2 separate regions of the Homo sapiens genome follow, and region 2 is linked to region 1. The links come from fine-mapping of genetic effects on gene expression. A gene starts in region 1. The other region holds a variant in brackets. All regions are shown on one strand. Distances are between the middles of the regions.

Region 1 (8,327 bases):
ACATATATCTCATTTGATCTTGACAACAATCCTATGAGCTAAGCACCCTTATCCCAATTGTACTGATGAAAAAACTAAGACCCAGGGAGGTTGGGTAAGTGGCTCAAGGTCCCACAGAGCTGGCATTTGCATGACGAAGTTTTGCTCCAGAATACATGATCTTAATCTCTGCTGCCTTGTCTCTCTAAATAACAAAAGGGGCCAGGTGTGGTTGCTCACACCTGTAATCCCAACATTTTTGGAGGCCGAGGTGGGCAGATAAAGAGTTCGAGACCAGTCTGGCCAACCTGGTGAAACCCTGTCTCTACTAAAAAAATTAAAAAATTGGCCAGGCGCATTGGCTCACGCTTGTAATCCCAGCATTTTGGGAGGCCGAGGCAGGTAGATCATTTGAAGTCAGGAATTCGAGACCAGCCTGGCCAACATGGTGAAACCCCGACTCTACTAAAAATACAAAAATTAGCTGGGAGTGGTGGTGCGCACCTGTAATCCCAGCTACTTGGGAGGTTGAGGCAGGAGAATCGCTTGAGCCTGGGAAGTGGAGGTTGCAGTGAGCTGAGATCGCACCACTGCACTCCAATCTGGATGACAGAGTGAGACCTTGTCTCAAAATAAAAATAAAAATAAAAAAATTGGCCAGGTGCGGTGGCTCACACCTGTAATCCCAGCACTTTGGGAGGCCGAGGTGGGCAGAACACTTGAGGTCAGGAGTTCCAGATCAGCCTGGCCAATATGGTGAAACCCCATCTCTACTAAAAATAACAAAAATTAGCTGGGCATCATGGTGCATGCCTGCTAGTCCCAGCTACTTGGGAGGCTGAGGCAGAAGAATCGCTCAAACCTGGGAGGTGGATGTTGCAGTGAGCCGAGATCATGCCACTGCACTGTAGCCTGGGCGACAGTGTCTTTCTGTGTCAAAAAAACAAAAAACAAAAATCGGCTGGGTGTAGTGGTGGGCGCCTGTAATCCCAATGACTCGGGAGGCTGAGGCACAAGAATTGCTTGAACTCGGGAGGCGGAGGTTGCAGTGAGCTGAGATCGCACCACTGCACTCCAGCCTGGGCGACAGAGCAAAACTCTCTCAAAATATAAATAAATAAATAAATAAATAAGGGATACCTCCAATAGGCCACTATTCTCTACCCACAAGGTGAAGGTTAAGAGGAAGAAATGGAAGATTGTATTCAATTCTGTGCCTCAGTGAACACTACTGAGTGCCTGACAGAGAAAGTGGGCTTTGAACTTACAAGCACAGCCTGCTTTCAATCTCACCTTAGCACTCATTAGCTGTGCGACCTTGGGCCAATAACCCAGCCTCTCAAAAGCAGGTTCATCCTGCCAACCTTGTAAGCTGTCGTTGAGTATGGGATGAAGGAATACTTGTGAGCCACCGGCACAGTGCCTGGCACAAAGAACACAACTTTGTAGCCTCTGGAAGAGTGGCATGATGAAAGTGGCTTCTGGCAAGCAAAAGATAAAGGGGTTAAACTGAGCAGCTGTTCTACAACCACAAGTCAAAACCGCAAACGCTCAGGAAAAAAGACTCTGTAATGAAATACACATCCTGTCTATGAAATTACGTGTTAACATTTACCCTGACCAACTCTTAAGTTGCTGCTGTCTTTCCTATGGGCATTCCTCCAGGCTGGCGGTCATGGGAAACCTGCATGAAGCCTAGGCAGCGAGAACGGCTAACCAAAAGGAAACTCCCAGGGAAATGCAATTATTGATGGTTTCTCGTGTAATGATTTCTGTGGGGAAATCAGTCATCTGGGTTTTGAGGTGCTAACCCCAAGCATCTGGAACCATTGCTATGGTTGGTCTCAGCTTGCCACTACCTTCCAAGCAGAGCTGACCGTTCTTTCCTTCATTCATGCATTCTTTTGTTCAGTCAACACATATGTATCAAATAGCCCCCGCATCCTGTGCTCCAGCACTGAGCTAGGAACAGGCCAGGTGTGCAGAAGCCTCCTCCCTGTCTGAGGATAGTTATGGAAGGCTAAATCGAACTGGGCTTTGGACAGACACTTACATTCTGGAAGGTGGCATGGACTTACTTTGAGAAGGCTCACCCAGTCCTGCCTTTGTGGAAATGAGGGAACCCAGGCCCAGGCAGCCTCAAAGCCCGACTGCAGAGACAGTAAGTGCGATGCTGCCTGCAAATCCAGGTCCTCTGGCCACCTCTGTGGCCTTCCCTCCCCTCACTATACCACATTGCATCCACTAAAACACCAGTGAGGGACAGAAATTTGAAGGATGTGTTTTCTTTCTTTTTAAAAGAACTAGTCAATGGAGCCCAGAGCTGTCTATCTCTGGAGAAGAGCTGTCTGTGAGGCAGGTGTATACAGAAGAGAGAGAGAGGAAGGAAGAGAACGAGAGACTGCAGACAAATATGAACAGCAAGTGTCTCTCTTCAGCCCTCCCTGGAGCCAGGCCGTGCTTCTGCTCCTGACTTACAGTTGCTTCACTGTGCAGTGAAAGTCAGAGCTTGGCTCCCACGCCACGCACAGCAGAGTCCCATCCCCGCTTCTGGCATCTTTTCTCACTGTCCTATTACACAGACCCTCCATTCCGGCCACACACCGTACCCTGTCCCACTTAAGGACCTTGGCTCAGGCCCTTTCCACCACCTGGAATGCTCCTGCTACCCCCACAGGGCTGCCCAAATGCCTTTTCCATGAAGGACACCCCAACTGGAAGCAATTTTTCTTTTTCCTGGAATTCCGTACACTTAGCAGTTGTGCAAGCAGCTTTGCTAGACAGTTCCCTAACTTCAAGCCTTGTTCCTCCCGTAGATGGGTTAGGTCTCTGGATATTAGGGTCCCCAGAGTATTTATTTATAGTTCCAGTTCCCAGTATGGCGCCCTGTACTCTGCAGGCACCTGACCAATGGCTGTCAACCCAGGCGCACCAACCCTCCATATCAGAACGCTTCATACACAGCCTGCAGGAGGGACTAGCAGGGCAGAGGGACCTGCTTTGCCCAATAGTGGAAGTCACAGGACATTTCTCAACATCATTCACGATAAAAACATCTTTTTTTTTTTTTCTGCGACATAGTCACTCACCCTCCACCTTCTTTCGGTAAATCCTCCATAAAACTACATAAGGAGAAATATCCCTTTGTTTTACATCCTCTGACTCAGATACTGAGCATTATTCCTTGGGGTCAGCGGTGGAGGTGGAGGTGGAGGTGGAGGGGAGGAAAGATCCCCTCGGGGATGCGGGGAAGAGGAGAGTATATTGTGGAGGGGCACGGCGTTTTGCTCTTTTTTTGTTTTTTTCCTTAAGATGGTCCTGGCTCACAGAAAGGCCACTACCCGGCAGGCGGGTGGGTCACTTCCTGTGGGCGCAGCGGGGCTACGACTTGACAGCTACAAACGTTCGACCCTCCGACTGCGCTCTCACCGGGTTCCCAGACCCAGGTGGTGGTAGTCGGGGGTGGGAGTGGCGGGAAGGGCGCCGTCTTAAGAACCATCTGCCCATCCTCAGGGCTTCGCGCCTCTGGGGAGGTGGCCCTCAGCCGCCCTCGGCAGAGCTCTCCCCGAAACATGGTGCCGCGTCTCAGCGCTCCGGCCCCCGCGTGGCTCTACGACAGCGGGGTCCCTCTGGGGGCCGCGGGTGAGGGACTCCACCTTCCGCACGGACGACGTGGGCTCGCCCGGCTCCGTCGGCGGCATGAAGGGCACGGCTTGAGGGAAGCTCCCGAGGGCGCGATGGGCCTCCCGAGGGCCGACCGTGCCCCGCCGGGGTACGTGAGGGGCGCAAGGCGTGGAGCTGGGTCCAGACCCGTCCTGGCTCCTCCCCGGGCCCCTTCTCCACAGCCCCTTTCTATCAGCCCTGGCCGCCCCTCCGGCCTGGCCCAGCGCCGCGCCCTCCTTCCCCGAACTCCGCGGCCCGGGCGGAGGTGTCACTCCCGCCTCCAGTCACGACGGCGGGCCAGGTTGTGCAACACGCGCCGCGCGATGTGCCACCCACCCCCCCCGTATTCCACACCGCAACTCCCACCGCTCCGAGGGTCCTCCCCAGGCGCCGCGATATCTGTGCCCAAGGCTCTGAGCCCCTCTAAGCCCGCGGCGCGGACTTCCTGCCTCCCCAGCCCGGGCGCGTAGTCCCGACCGTCCGGCCCTCCGCGACCTTGCCCCGCGTCCGCAGCATCCTGGCGGCTACCGCTCCCCACGTCGAGTCTCACCGGCTGGGAGCAGACCAGCGCCCGGTGGTCCAGGAGTCGCAGGGAGGCGCCACCCGGGGCCAGCACGCCCAGGAGCAGCAGGAGCAGCCCCAGCAGGGGCCCCGGGACAGCGGACGGCGGGCTGCGTGCGGCCCCCATGGCCCGGCTGGCGTCGCGGAGGGCTCGGCCCCGGCTGGGGACGCAGCGAACGAACGTTCTGAGGCTTTCTTTTCCGCGGTGGAGTTCGAGTCGGCTCCACTTTGCTCGCTTCCGGCTTCCAGCCCGGGCCCAGGGGCGGGCCGGGCCGAGGGGAGGAGTTTAGTCTGGGACGGGGAGGGGTTTAGGGTGAGACAGGGCCCTCCCCCCGTTCCTCCTTGCGCCCCTCCTCTCGGCCCTACGCTCAGTCCTCCGGGCGTCCCTACCCAGTCCTTCCGGCGTCCCTCCCCGGCCCTCCTCCGCCCGCGCGCCCCAGGTGCGCTCCTCCCGCTGCTCCTGGGCCTGGCCCGTCGCGCCTCCAGTTGCACCCGCGTCGGGCTAGCGTCAACTCCAGCTGGAGCCTCGCCTGCCCCACATGCACCCTCCACCCTGGCCGTGCCGCAGCAACTGTCGATTTTAATCCTCCGCCCCCACTCACTTGATTCTTGGCCCTGTTCAGACTTCTTGCTTCTCTTGTGGGTCACTGGACGTGAAATCCCAACTTGGGATTTCAGGAAGTCCGTTTTCTTAGTCTCTGTCCCTTTTATTTTTGTTTTTTATTTTACTTTATTTTTAGACAGGGTCTCCCTCTGTCTCCCAGGCTGGAGTGCAGTGGTGCAACCGCAGCTCACTGCAGCTTCGGCCTCCCGGGCTCAAGCGATCCTCCTGCCTCTGCCTCCTGAGTAGATGGAAGCGCGGGCCATATCCCATTTTATTGTCCCCACCCCTTTGCCTGGTTCTGCTCGCTCTGCTTTCCTTGGCTTTGCTTTCTCTTTCTCAAGACAAGGACAGCTCCGGGCTCCAGGGAGGATGGGACAGCAGTCACTTCCAGCCTCCTGGCTCGGACTCGGGGACACTTGAGTTCCTGGAGGGCAGGCAACTTACCTGGTCTGTGAGACTGTGTCCCAGCCGCACCTAAGAGAGTCGTTACTTCCCAGAGGCTCACTCCACGGCCGCGGAAGCTGTCGCCAGCGAATTACACATTTCATGAGTCTCCTTCTTAGCACGCGTGCAGCCTGCGTCCTCTCCTCTCCGGACCCTGGAGGACCCTCCCAAGCCGGCCCGCGCTGCCTCTATCCTAGGTTCCTGCTTCGAGCCCGTCCTGCCCTAGTGCATCCACACGCTCCTGCCCATTCGCCTCTCCTCTCTTCCTCCCAAGACCACCACCGTCCGCTTTTCCTTGCCTATCAAGTGCGCCTCTGCCTGGCCTTGACACGCACGGAGTCTACACTCAAGTGGCTTTTCCCTGTATTTTCCACTGCCCTCGAGAGGTGGGTTTTTTCGCTGCCCGAAGCACCCGCTGACCCCCAGCGACATCTCTATGAGCCCCGCCCGCAGACACGACCCAGCTGAATGAAGCCTGAAGCTCAGTGGCCTTCAAATTGTCTGTTTCTAAAAGAATTTTGGAAAACTGCATCCTCTCATGCATTTTAAAGATGACATCTAAAATTCTCCATCCTAAGTCTAAATAGATGTAGAGGATGTAACTGTTACTTAAAAATCAGCGGTTGTCGTAGGCAGCTTCTAAGATGTGTTCTAGGATCCCACCCCCTGGGAGTCACGACCTTCTGAATCCTCCTCGCGGAGTGTGGGATGGACCCAGAGGCTTGGTTCTAACAATAGAATATGAATAGAAGAAGACAAAAATGATGGGATGTCACTTACAAGATTAAGTTACAAAAAGATCCTGACTTCTGTCTTGCCCAGCCCCTCCCTCTGAGCTCCTAGCTCTTAGGGAAGCCATGCTGGGGCCCAAGTGGCAGAGAATGAGAAAGGCCTCTGCCCAGTGCAAGACACTGAGATCTTCATTTCATCATTGCCATTATTAGTACATAATTGATAAAAAATAATGTAAATATAATACATGTTAATAAGTAATTAAACATGAATTACTTGAAATTCATTTTATTCCTAATTAGTTGATGTATCTGTGAACAAATATTGCTTATTCATAGAACAAAGCAACATTCAGCATTTAAGAAATATTTTATTTTTCTTCTTTTTTTTTTTTTCTTTTTGAGATGGAGTCTTGCTCTGTCATCCAGGCCGGAGTGCAGTGGCGTGATCTCGGCTCACTGCAAGCTCCGCCTCCCGGGTTCAGTCCATTCTCCTGCCTCAGCCTCCCGAGTAGCTGGGACTACAGGCACCTGCCACCACGCCCGGCTAATTTTTTGTATTTTTAGTAGAGACGGGGTTTCACCGTGTTAGCCAGGATGGTCTTGATCTCCTGACCTCATGATCCGCCCGCCTCGGCCTCCCAAAGTGCTAGGATTACAGGCGTGAGCCACCATTTTTCTTCTTTTTAAAACATTGAGACAGGGTCTCACTATGTTACCCAGGCTGGTCTTGAATTCCTGGGCTCAAGTCATCCTCCTGCCTCAGCTTCCCAAAGTACTAGGATTACAGGCACGAGCTACCACCCCAGGCTAAAAATATTTTAGATGTAAGCCTTAAAAAATTGCTTACATAAATAATTATATTTGTCTCATCAATTCTTTGAACCCGTTTTCAGTCATATGCAAAGATCACATAGCCATCTTGTCACCTTTTTTTTTTTTTAAATAGGGTCTCACTAAACGGCCCAGGCTAGACTCAAACTCCAGGGCTCAAGAGGTCCTCTCATCTCAGCCTCCCAAGTAGCTGGGATTACAGGTTTGCACCACTGTGCCCAGTCAAATATTTTTGATTTGGCAACTGACAACTTGATTGGGTCCTCCTTCAATTTTAGTAAGGCAATATTTGGAACCTACCTCACTTGCAAAAAAATAGATGTCTATCTATCTATCTATCTATCTATCTCTGTATATCGATATGTGTATATACCTATCCTGTGATCAGAGTCCTATTACACAATGGTATCTGGTACTGTTGCTATGTCTAGTGCCCAGGGGCTTTTTAAATTTTATTTTATTTTATTTATTTTTTTTCTGAGATGGAGTCTTGCTCTGTCGCCCAGGCTGGAGTGTAGTGGCAACCTCCGCCTCCCAGGTTCAAGCAATTCTCCTGCCTCAGCCTCCTGAATAGCTGGGATTACAGGCACATGCCACCACGCCCAGCTAATTTTTGTATGTTTAGTAGAGATGGGGTTTCACCATGTTGGCCAGGCTGGTCTCGAACTCCTGACCTTGTGATCTGCCCTCCTCAACCTCCTAAAGTGCTGGGATTACAGGGGTGAGCCACTGCTCTGGGCCCCCAGGGGCTTTTTTACACATTCTAAAATGTGTCCCCCAAATTTCACATGTTAGAAACTTAATACCCAGGACTGATGAGAGGCCTACCTTTCTTTTGAAAGTGGGAGAAGGACAAGTAGGAAACAAAAGTGTGGGGAAGGAAGGGAGCCTCCACCCACACCTGACATCTTCACAGCTGGTACCTTTCCTGGCAGGCAAGTGTCTGGAAGAGGACATGGGGATGTTGAGATTCTGGAGGTCCATTCCCTTCAAATCTATTCCCTTCAAGCCAGGGCCAGCAAGTTTTTTTTTTCTGGAAAGTATCAGATAGTAAATACTTCAGGCTTTGCCAGCCATATAGTTCTGTCCCAACTATTCAACTCTGCCCTTGTAGAAGCCATTGACAATATGTAAACAAAGGAGTGTGTCTGTGTTCTAATAAAACTTTATTTATGGACACTTACATTTAAATTTCATATAATTTTCATTTGTCCAAACATATTATTTCCCTTTTGATTTTTTCCCCTGACCATTTGAAACTGTAAAAACCAACTTAGCTCCCCGGAGGGTACAAAAACAGGCAGTAGAACAGATTTGGGCCATAGGCCCTAGTTTACTGATGTGTGCCCTAAACTTTCCAAGGCGTGCCCCTTGGAAAGTCTTCATGTAACCTCAGGGTAATGTGTACTCTCATTTGAAATTGCTATCCTGGTTCTCAACTCTGCCTACGTATTAGAATCCCATGAGGTGCTTTTTGAAATACCAGTGTACAGCCACACCCTTCCACACTG
Region 2 (8,327 bases), 27 kb before region 1:
CCATTATTTTATAAGTTTGTGTTAACATTATGGGTACACCTTGGCCCTTCTAGGCAGTTGGCATGTTTTTCAGGGAGGCAGTGAAGCTGTGGCCTGGAGCTGGTGAGTGTCTTGACATGCTTTGTTGGCACAGCCAGCTCAGCTCTAATGGACTCAGCCTGAGAACGATTTTTTCTCATCACCCTCGGCTCTCTCTCACTTTTCTTTCCTTCCTTCTTTCTTTTTCTTTGTTTTTGAGACAGGGTCTCACTCTGTCACCTGGGCTGGAGTGCAGTGGCGCCATCATAGTTCACTGCAGCCTCAACCTCCTGGGCTCAAACAATCCTCCTGCCTCAGCCTCCCAAGTAGCTGGGACTACAGAAGTGTGCCACCACGCCCGGCTTCCCATTTCTTTCTAAAAGAGTAGCTTTCCAAAGGGGGAACATCTTGAGAAACTAATTTTTAAATACTGTGCCCTCCTCTATCACTCTTGCCCCAGCCAGAAGCACAAATTCTTACGTATGAATAAGAAGAACAAGGCCATGGGTTTTTGTTTGGTTTTATTTTAACATGAAGGGTAGTATTAAGTCTAAGCAAGAACACTGGGCCTGCACCAAAATAAACAAACACACAGTGATTTTTTTTTTTTCTTAGCACAGAGGCAGCCAGTATTACACAGCCCCTCTCTGTGTTGTGACCCTAGCTTGCTGCTTCTGGCTGTGCCAAATGCTAAGCAGGCGTTTCACTCAGGGCAGCCCGGGAGGCAAGGTCTGAGAGTGGAAGCTCCTGGGAGCCTGAGCTCTCTCTGCCTCTCGTTAGCTGTGGCTTTGGCCATCAACTGGAACTATGTCATTATTTATAAAACAGGAGCAATCACAGGGCTGTGGTGAGAATCACATGAGGTGACACATGTGAAATGGTCCTTTCCCCTAAGACATATATAATTGTAACAAGGAACAAAATTTACATAGAAAATAATTACAGAACAACGTAGGACCATGTCTTCATTTCTCCCTGGAGCGGATGTAAAATAAGGTGATTGATTTGAGCAAGCATGTTATGAATATTTAGAAATGTCTTCTAGGGAAGCAAGCTGGCGCTCACCGATTTTGGTTTGCCAGGCATATCAGAAGGCACTTTGTGACAGGTGCAGTAGGGACGCGGAGTGATCTCTTCACGTGTAGGCAATGCCCAGCCCACACCTAGGCCTTGCCTGAGTCTGGCCATGCAGTTCTTGCCCTAAGGAAGAACAGGAAAATATAGCGCGTGGTTGACTGTCAGGCCCTCTGCCCCTTCCCTCGTCACAGCCACCTTCAGGGCTGCTTTCTCTCCATTTTCCTGAGGCCGAGAAAGAGGAGGTAGCTGGCACAATGCCACATTGCAGTCAGGAAGAAAAGCCAGTGTGCACCAAGGCCCTTCTTCCTCCCACATCTGCACTGCTCCAGGCAACCTTCGGTAGTCGGCTGTTGCTTGGGTCCAGCTTCCTTTCCATGAAAGCTCAGCCATTCTAGCAAAAAAGCAGGGGCTGTTTTCATCTTCTGAGAGAATCCCATGACACTGGTGAGCAGAGGCGGCCAGTGGGACACCCGTGCAGGGAAGCAGGCAAATGCAGGGACCAGCCACCCGCATCCCTCCTTTCTACTCCCTCTCCTCCTCCTACCTGGTCACTGTGTACCTTCTTCCTGTCTCATCAGAGAGGAAGGATCCAGTGAGCGAACTCATCTTATAGTCAATGACCTAAGGGGTTATTCCTCCTGGGAAGGACTCCAGGGGGAGGTGGGCTGGGCCAGGCTTCCTGGCACACTTCAAACCATGAGACAGGAGACTGCATGTTCCTCCCACAGGCAAGACTGGCCCACCCGGGTGACTGCCTGCTTTCATCAACCTAAATGGACAGGGCGAGAGTGTGGACCCAGTGCTAGGATCTGGGAGAGGCGATGGGGCATGGAGAGCCATGCAGAGGTGGAGGGCAAGATGGACCTGGATGCCATTTCAGAGTGAGGGGAGGCCCCGTGGGGAAAGCGTCGGGTACAGAATTAACATGAACAGCTTGTGCAATGGGTTTAGGGGTAGCTGCTTTTCTTCATATTCTTCTATAAAATATACCCATGGAATCCATATTGTTGCCATTTTTCCACAATGGACATGTTCACTCAGCCAAGTACTTCCTGAGCTCCTGAGAGACGCCAAATATGGGAACACATATTACTTCTATAATCTGAAAAGGCAAACACCGGAGGAAGAGAGCAATACCTAATAGCAGGGAAAGAGGATCAGTGGTACCTCAGGGGGCACAAACTGCTCTGCCCCAGAAGCAGGCTGGTGCCACTCGGGGATACTGCAGGCTTGCCAGGACCCCATGAGGTGGGAACTCCTGCCCCACCCACTTTACAGATGAGCAAGCTACCTAGGGCGGACGAGCAGCTGGCCAGCCCCCAACCCTGCTGCCTCTTCTTTGTAAGGATCCTCTGTCCGACACAGTTGACTTGTGGGATGCAGGCCCGGCTGCTGGAGCAGCGGCCCTCCATCTCACTCTGTCCTCAGGTGCCCCGGGCCTTGCTGGAGTCCCAGCTGGCAGGGCGCTAAGGCAGAAGAGGGCCCTGCATACACCTCATTTATTTAGGAAGGGGAGCACCAACCACAGAGCCCAAAGGCTATAGAGTTAAAACCACCCACTGCATTGTAAGTACATCTTCTTCTCTCTTATGCCCTATTTAATTTTCAAAGATAAACAGGAAAGGCCAGGCACGGTGGGCTCAGGCCTATAATCCCAGCACTTTGGGAGGATGAGGCGGGCAGATGGCTTGAGCCCAGGAGTTCGTGACCAGCCTGGACAACATGGTGAAACCCCATTTCTACAAAATATATACACACAAATTAGCCGGGCACAGTGGTGCACGCCTGTAGTTCTAGCCACTGGCAGGCTGAGGTGGAAAGATGGCTTGAGCCTGGGAGGTCGAGGCTGCAGTGAGCCATGATTGCACCACTGTAATACAGCCTGGTGACAGAGAGACCCTGACTTAAAAACAAACAAAAAACCAAAACACAACAAAAGCAAGAAAGAAGTATATCCATCATACCCTTGCATTCAGAGATCCCAGCTCAAACTGCTGAATGGATGTTTCAGAGACCGAACACCACCCTTTTTAGACCCTAAACACCTTCAAGGACCTTCCTATGCAGAAAAGAGAAACTGGTTTTGAATCAAAGTAATTATTCCTTAAAAAAAAAAAAAACAAAAAAAAAACTAGGATCAAGATAGTAGGCAGGAAAAAGTCATGAAACTCTACGCGGGAGTTGGGAGCTTGTTGGTGGCTGCGTGCATAATCGGCCTGGACACAGGCATGGTTAGATGCTCCGCTGCTTCTTTCCCAACCGGAACCACCTCTGCACACTCAGGAGACGAGCTGAAGAGGTGGGAGGGGCACAGCGTGGAGGGCA[C/T]CTGTTCTTAGAGAGACATTTCTTGGTGAAACAATTTATTAGCCATGGTTCAGAATAATACAAAAATAAAGGTGTGGCTTTATTTACACACACTCTTGAAGCTCTTGGCATTCAGCGGACAGCAAACACCATACTCAGAGTGATGGAATTAATAGCATTTAGGGTAAGCAAGGACCAGTGTGAGACTGGGCCCAGGAAATGGGGAGGGAATGTGAGGAGAAACAGGGAATGACATTAAAGAAGAAACAGACACCTTGGAGAATTTATGACTCCTTTCTCTATGTCATGTCCAGAAGAGGCAAGTCTACAGAGATCAAAGTAGCCTAGGGGTGCCTAGGGATGGGGAGGTTGGGGTGGTGACTAAGGGGGGCTGGATTTCTTTTGGGGGTAGTAAACTCTAAGACTGACTGTGCTGATGGCTGCTGAACTGTGACTATACTAAACCGGCATCAAATTGTGCAGGGTCAATTGTGGATTGTATGGTAAGTGAACTGTACTCCAATAAAGCTGTTAGGAGGACAAAGGCAGCTGCCCTGGAGATAGTAGGCAATGCCCATCAGGACATTTACTGGCATGGGCTCAAAGGCCAGCAGAGCTAGAATTCAAGGTTCCTGAGGAATGGGAGCAGATGGGAACATGTGCTCTACGCAGGAAGAGTGCATTGTGGTATCCTGTACTCTGGGCGTCAAACAGTTATTTATTGGAAGCTAGGGAAAGGTCACAGAATGCATGGTAGGTGTCCAGACCCAACGAAGCCCCTCTCCAGGATTATTGGAGAGACTGAGCCCAAAAGGCTAGTGGCTGGGAGGCTTCTGCTCCTGTTCTCCTTTGCCTGGTCCTTTGCTGCTGTTGGGTGGATTATGGGCCATACACCATCTGGGACACAGAGCTTTGGTGGCCCTGCTACCACTAGGTAAAGTCTAACTGCAAGAAAAAACTCCGCAACTAGCAACTTCTTGACCTACAGTAAGTGGCTCGACCTTCCTGCTAGAAACTCTTACCAGATCAACAAATTTATGCACTTTTATTGATAATCTTTCACGCACATGTATGTGTGCGCACACACACATGCAAACTGTCCTGTTTGCTCTCCTGTCACATTTCCGAATCTTCTCCTCCTCACTGGAGGTTGGAAATATAGTTAAGGACTCAGGCATAGGAATGAAGGGCACCCTATTCCAGTGTCAGACGGCACCTCAATGTGTTCTTCAGGACCCTGAAGCCAGAAGCCTCTAGCCTACCCCCAGGAGGTACTTCAGGAACAAATTCTTCAAACACTGGCTTCAGAGCCTCTTTTCAAATGCTGTCTTTGGACCTCAGACCCTGAAGTCACAGCAGCACCCCTTCCCCACACAAGGTCTGCCCAGATCTTCACTGACCCACCACCCCTCATTTCCTTGCCCTTGCACCCTGGGGCTTCCTGAGCTCAGGGGAGCTCCAGCCCAGCTGCTCTGAAGAATCCTACGTGCTAACAGCTCCCCACTGATAGTCGGAACGCGGGTGCAGGGCTTCAGACTCACCTTCCTGCCAGATGCTTTTACGTTTCACCTCGACATTTCTCTCTTCCTATAAATGAACTCAGGTGACATCCAGCTGTGTTTAGCCCTCAGCCTCTCTCCATGCAGAGGCTCATCAGACGAAAGGTGCCCCAGGCCTCAGGACTGATGCGCACAAGGCTGTCCCCACCCCTGAGCTCTGGCGACATCCCCCCACCCCCCACCCCGATCTCTCTCACTGCCTCCCTCCTTCCCCTCCAGGCTCCACCAGCAGCTCCCTGACAAGCTCACTCCACTCACCTCCCAGCACTTACCCACAAACTGCTTCCTTGCTGGGACTACGCTTTCCCCAACCACAATCCTTCAGCTCAGGCATCTCCTCGGGGATCCCCCCTGACCTGGGTGCCTTTCCCGTGCATGCTCACAACCCTGGGCAGGCTTCCACTCCATCTTTCTACTTTTTTATTTTTTTTGAGACAGGGTCTCACTCTGCTGCCCAGGCTGGATTGCAATGGTACCATTATAGCTCACTGCAGCCTCTACCTCCTGGGCTCAAGTGATCATCTGGCATCAGCCTCCCGAGTAGCTGGGACTACAGGCATGTGCCACCATGACTGACTAAAAAAAAATTTAGGTAGAGATGAGGTCTCACTATGTCGCCCAGGCTGGTCTTGAACTCCTGAGCTCAAGCAATCCACCTGCCTCGCCTTCCCAAAGTGCTGGGATTACAAGCATGAGCCACTGCACCTGGCCCATTCAGCGTTTACATCCCGCGTGACCATCTTTTTTTTTTTTTTTTTTTGAGATAGAGTCTCGCTCTGTCATCCAGGCTGCAGTGCAATGGCACAATCTCGGCTCACTGCAACCTCTGCCTCCCAGATTCAAGCAATTCTCCTGCCTCAGCCTCCCAAGTAGCTAGGACTACAGGCATGTGTCACCATGCCCGGCTAATTTTTCTATTTTTAGTGGAGATGGGGTTTCACCATGTTGGCCAGGCTGGCTCAAACTCCTGACCTCAGAGTGATCCACCTGCCTCGGCCTCCCAGTGTGCTGGGATTACAGGCGTGAGCCACCGTGCCCGGCCCATCCTGTTCGTTTAACGTGTCCTCGGCACTAGCGGTTAAGTTCCTTCATGGCTGGGGCCATGCCGCATGCAATTTATCTTGGTATCCCAAATGCCCGCCACATAGTAGGTGCACAATAAATGCTGAATGAACGAATAATGGAGCCTCAAGGACGCTCTACCATTAGCTCCTGGGAGCGGGCTGTGTGGATTCCCCTGGGGATAGACGATAACCAGACCGCTGCACAAAGAAAAGTTAGGAGGGATGCCTGGGATTAAAATCCAGACATTTACATTTTAAAGCCTACATTTCACACACGAACATATACACATGCAGACATGTACACACAGATGAATACGTGCACACACACTCCTCTCTCAAAGCTGGGATCTGGGCGGTCCCTGGGGAGCCGCCCTCATGCACTGGGCCCCTCTGACTCTGACCCCATCGTGTCCCAGCCCGAGTTCTTCTGCAGCTGGCGGAAAAGCAGCTGCCGCTGGAGGCTCCTCAGGCTCTCCAGGTCCTCGGGAGAGAGTGGCAGGGCCGGCTTCCCTGGGTCCTGCTCCTCTTCCTCCTCTTCCTCCATTTCCGTGAGTCCCTCGGGGGGCTGCGGGGAGCTCCTGGAGATGTAGCCCTGGTCAGACTGCACTGACTGCCGCTGCTCCTCCTCGTAGGGCGTGTGTGGGTCTGTGAGGACCATGGCGGGTCTACTGCAGCCCCCCTGGGCCTGGCAGCTCAGACTCTGCTCGAAGAGCGAGAGCATCAAGCCTTCGAGGTGCTCCCTCACGTCCTCTGGAAGGAGGTCAGGAGACGCCATGGGGGTGCTGCTGCCAAGGGGCGAGTCCTCGGGGTCCACGGGGAGGAAGAGGACGCTATTTCGCCCAGCGCCCGGGCTGCCCAGCAGCGGGCAGGCCTCGCCCTCCCCCGCCAGTGCCAGCCGGACTGCGGCACCGTCAGCCAGGGGCCCAGGCTCCACCGCGGCCACCAGGGCCCCCTCCTCTGCGGCGAGCACCAGGGTGTGGAGGGGCTGCGGCGCTGGCTGACCCCGGGGCTGCAGGTGAGGTTCCAGCTTTGCCACTGCTGCTCCTCCTTCCTCCCCGACCAGCGGGTCTATGGCCAGGCAGGCCTGGGAGCCAGGCTCGCGCACCAGGGGCGCCCGCTTCACGATGCCGGTTCCCGGAGGCAGCAGTGGCTCCTCAAACACCTCTTCGTCCAGGGACGGGGCATCCTGGTCATCTGCTGAGTAGAGGTTCTCACATTCGAACCAGTCGGGACAGCGGACCTGCCAGTCCCGGAACCTGTCCAGGGCGGCGCGGAGCTGCCTGCCGCCCGGGCTCCGCAGGTAGTTGTCCCCCGACAGCTCCCCTACGCGGTGCATGCGGCCCGGCTGGAACATCTCCAGGTCCTGGATGCGGAAGTACACCTCCTCGAACCTGTCCATGAGCGGGTACCGCGGCGCCGCGCCGAACAGGTCGGGGACGTCGCCGTCACAGCTGACCTCGCTGAAGTAGCAGACTACGTAGGTGCCGAAGCAGGCTGGCCTCTTGAAGTCCGGGAGGATCATGTTCATGGCTGCAGTGAACAGGTCCCCCACGGGCTTTCCGTGGTCGCAGCGCAGCCGCACAGGCGCCCCCCGGCCCAGGAGCGCCTGCCACTTGGCGCGCGTGCCGCGGGAGCACAGGACGATGATCTTAGAGTTGCTCTCCACCATCTCCTGCTTCTGACGGCCCACCCAGGTCATGACTCCTGCCTCCGAGATGGCCTGCTCTTCCAGCAGGTCCAGGGCCACTTCCGTGCCGCAGGCGGTGAGCAGGAACTGGGCGAATTTCAGGACCACGTCCACGTAGAGGGGGTGGTCGGCTGAGTAGATGATCCAGACCTTCCTGGGCTTCAGCGGTGGGGGGATCAGGTCAGCCGCAGGCAGGCCATCTAAGGAAACAAGACCACACATGCTGACCCTCACCCCAGGGCCCAGGGCAGCTCTGTGCCTGCCAGCCCAGGAGGGGCCTGGACCAGGACACAGAGCTTGGCTCCCTCCCTAAGCTGAGAAACCCAACTGAGGCCTGTTGGAAAAACCCAGATGTTACTATTCCACCTTTGGCTGCCTGAAAAAAATCAGTCTGCTGCCTTGTGGGAAAAAGAATCTCTCAACGTTCCTAGCTGGTCTTTAGCCTATACTTTAATTAAGAAAAGAAAAAGAGGCACCAAGCTCTGTTGGTCTGCTCCAGGGAGGACCTCTGTTCACAAAATACTTACCTTTCTTTCCTTGTCTGAGTGATTCAAAAAATGGCACCCAGGCCTTGTTATTGGGGGCCCTTCTGAGTGGGGTACTGGAAGGGGGTTTCTA

Evidence for each region. PIP is the estimated chance that this variant, and not a neighbour inherited with it, causes the effect.
Region 2: its variant is fine-mapped to the expression of IL17RA in whole blood (INTERVAL, PIP above 0.99).

The regions. Positions count from the first base shown.
Region 1 is chr22:17,081,095-17,089,421 of GRCh38, reverse strand. It overlaps IL17RA (interleukin 17 receptor A), which reads right to left and starts at 4,422. Exons shown (of 13, transcript NM_014339.7): 1 at 4,193-4,422. The coding sequence starts at 4,330. RefSeq lists silencers at 3,640-3,889, 3,930-4,029, 4,280-4,399, 4,420-4,639 and an enhancer at 5,193-5,362.
Region 2 is chr22:17,107,889-17,116,215 of GRCh38, reverse strand. It overlaps IL17RA (interleukin 17 receptor A), which reads right to left. Exons shown (of 13, transcript NM_014339.7): 13 at 523-7,909. The coding sequence ends at 6,396. Among named protein-coding and RNA genes, the nearest start is that of TMEM121B, 9.3 kb to the left of the region's middle. RefSeq lists an enhancer at 8,060-8,327. The variant C/T (reference allele first, on the strand shown) is at 3,421.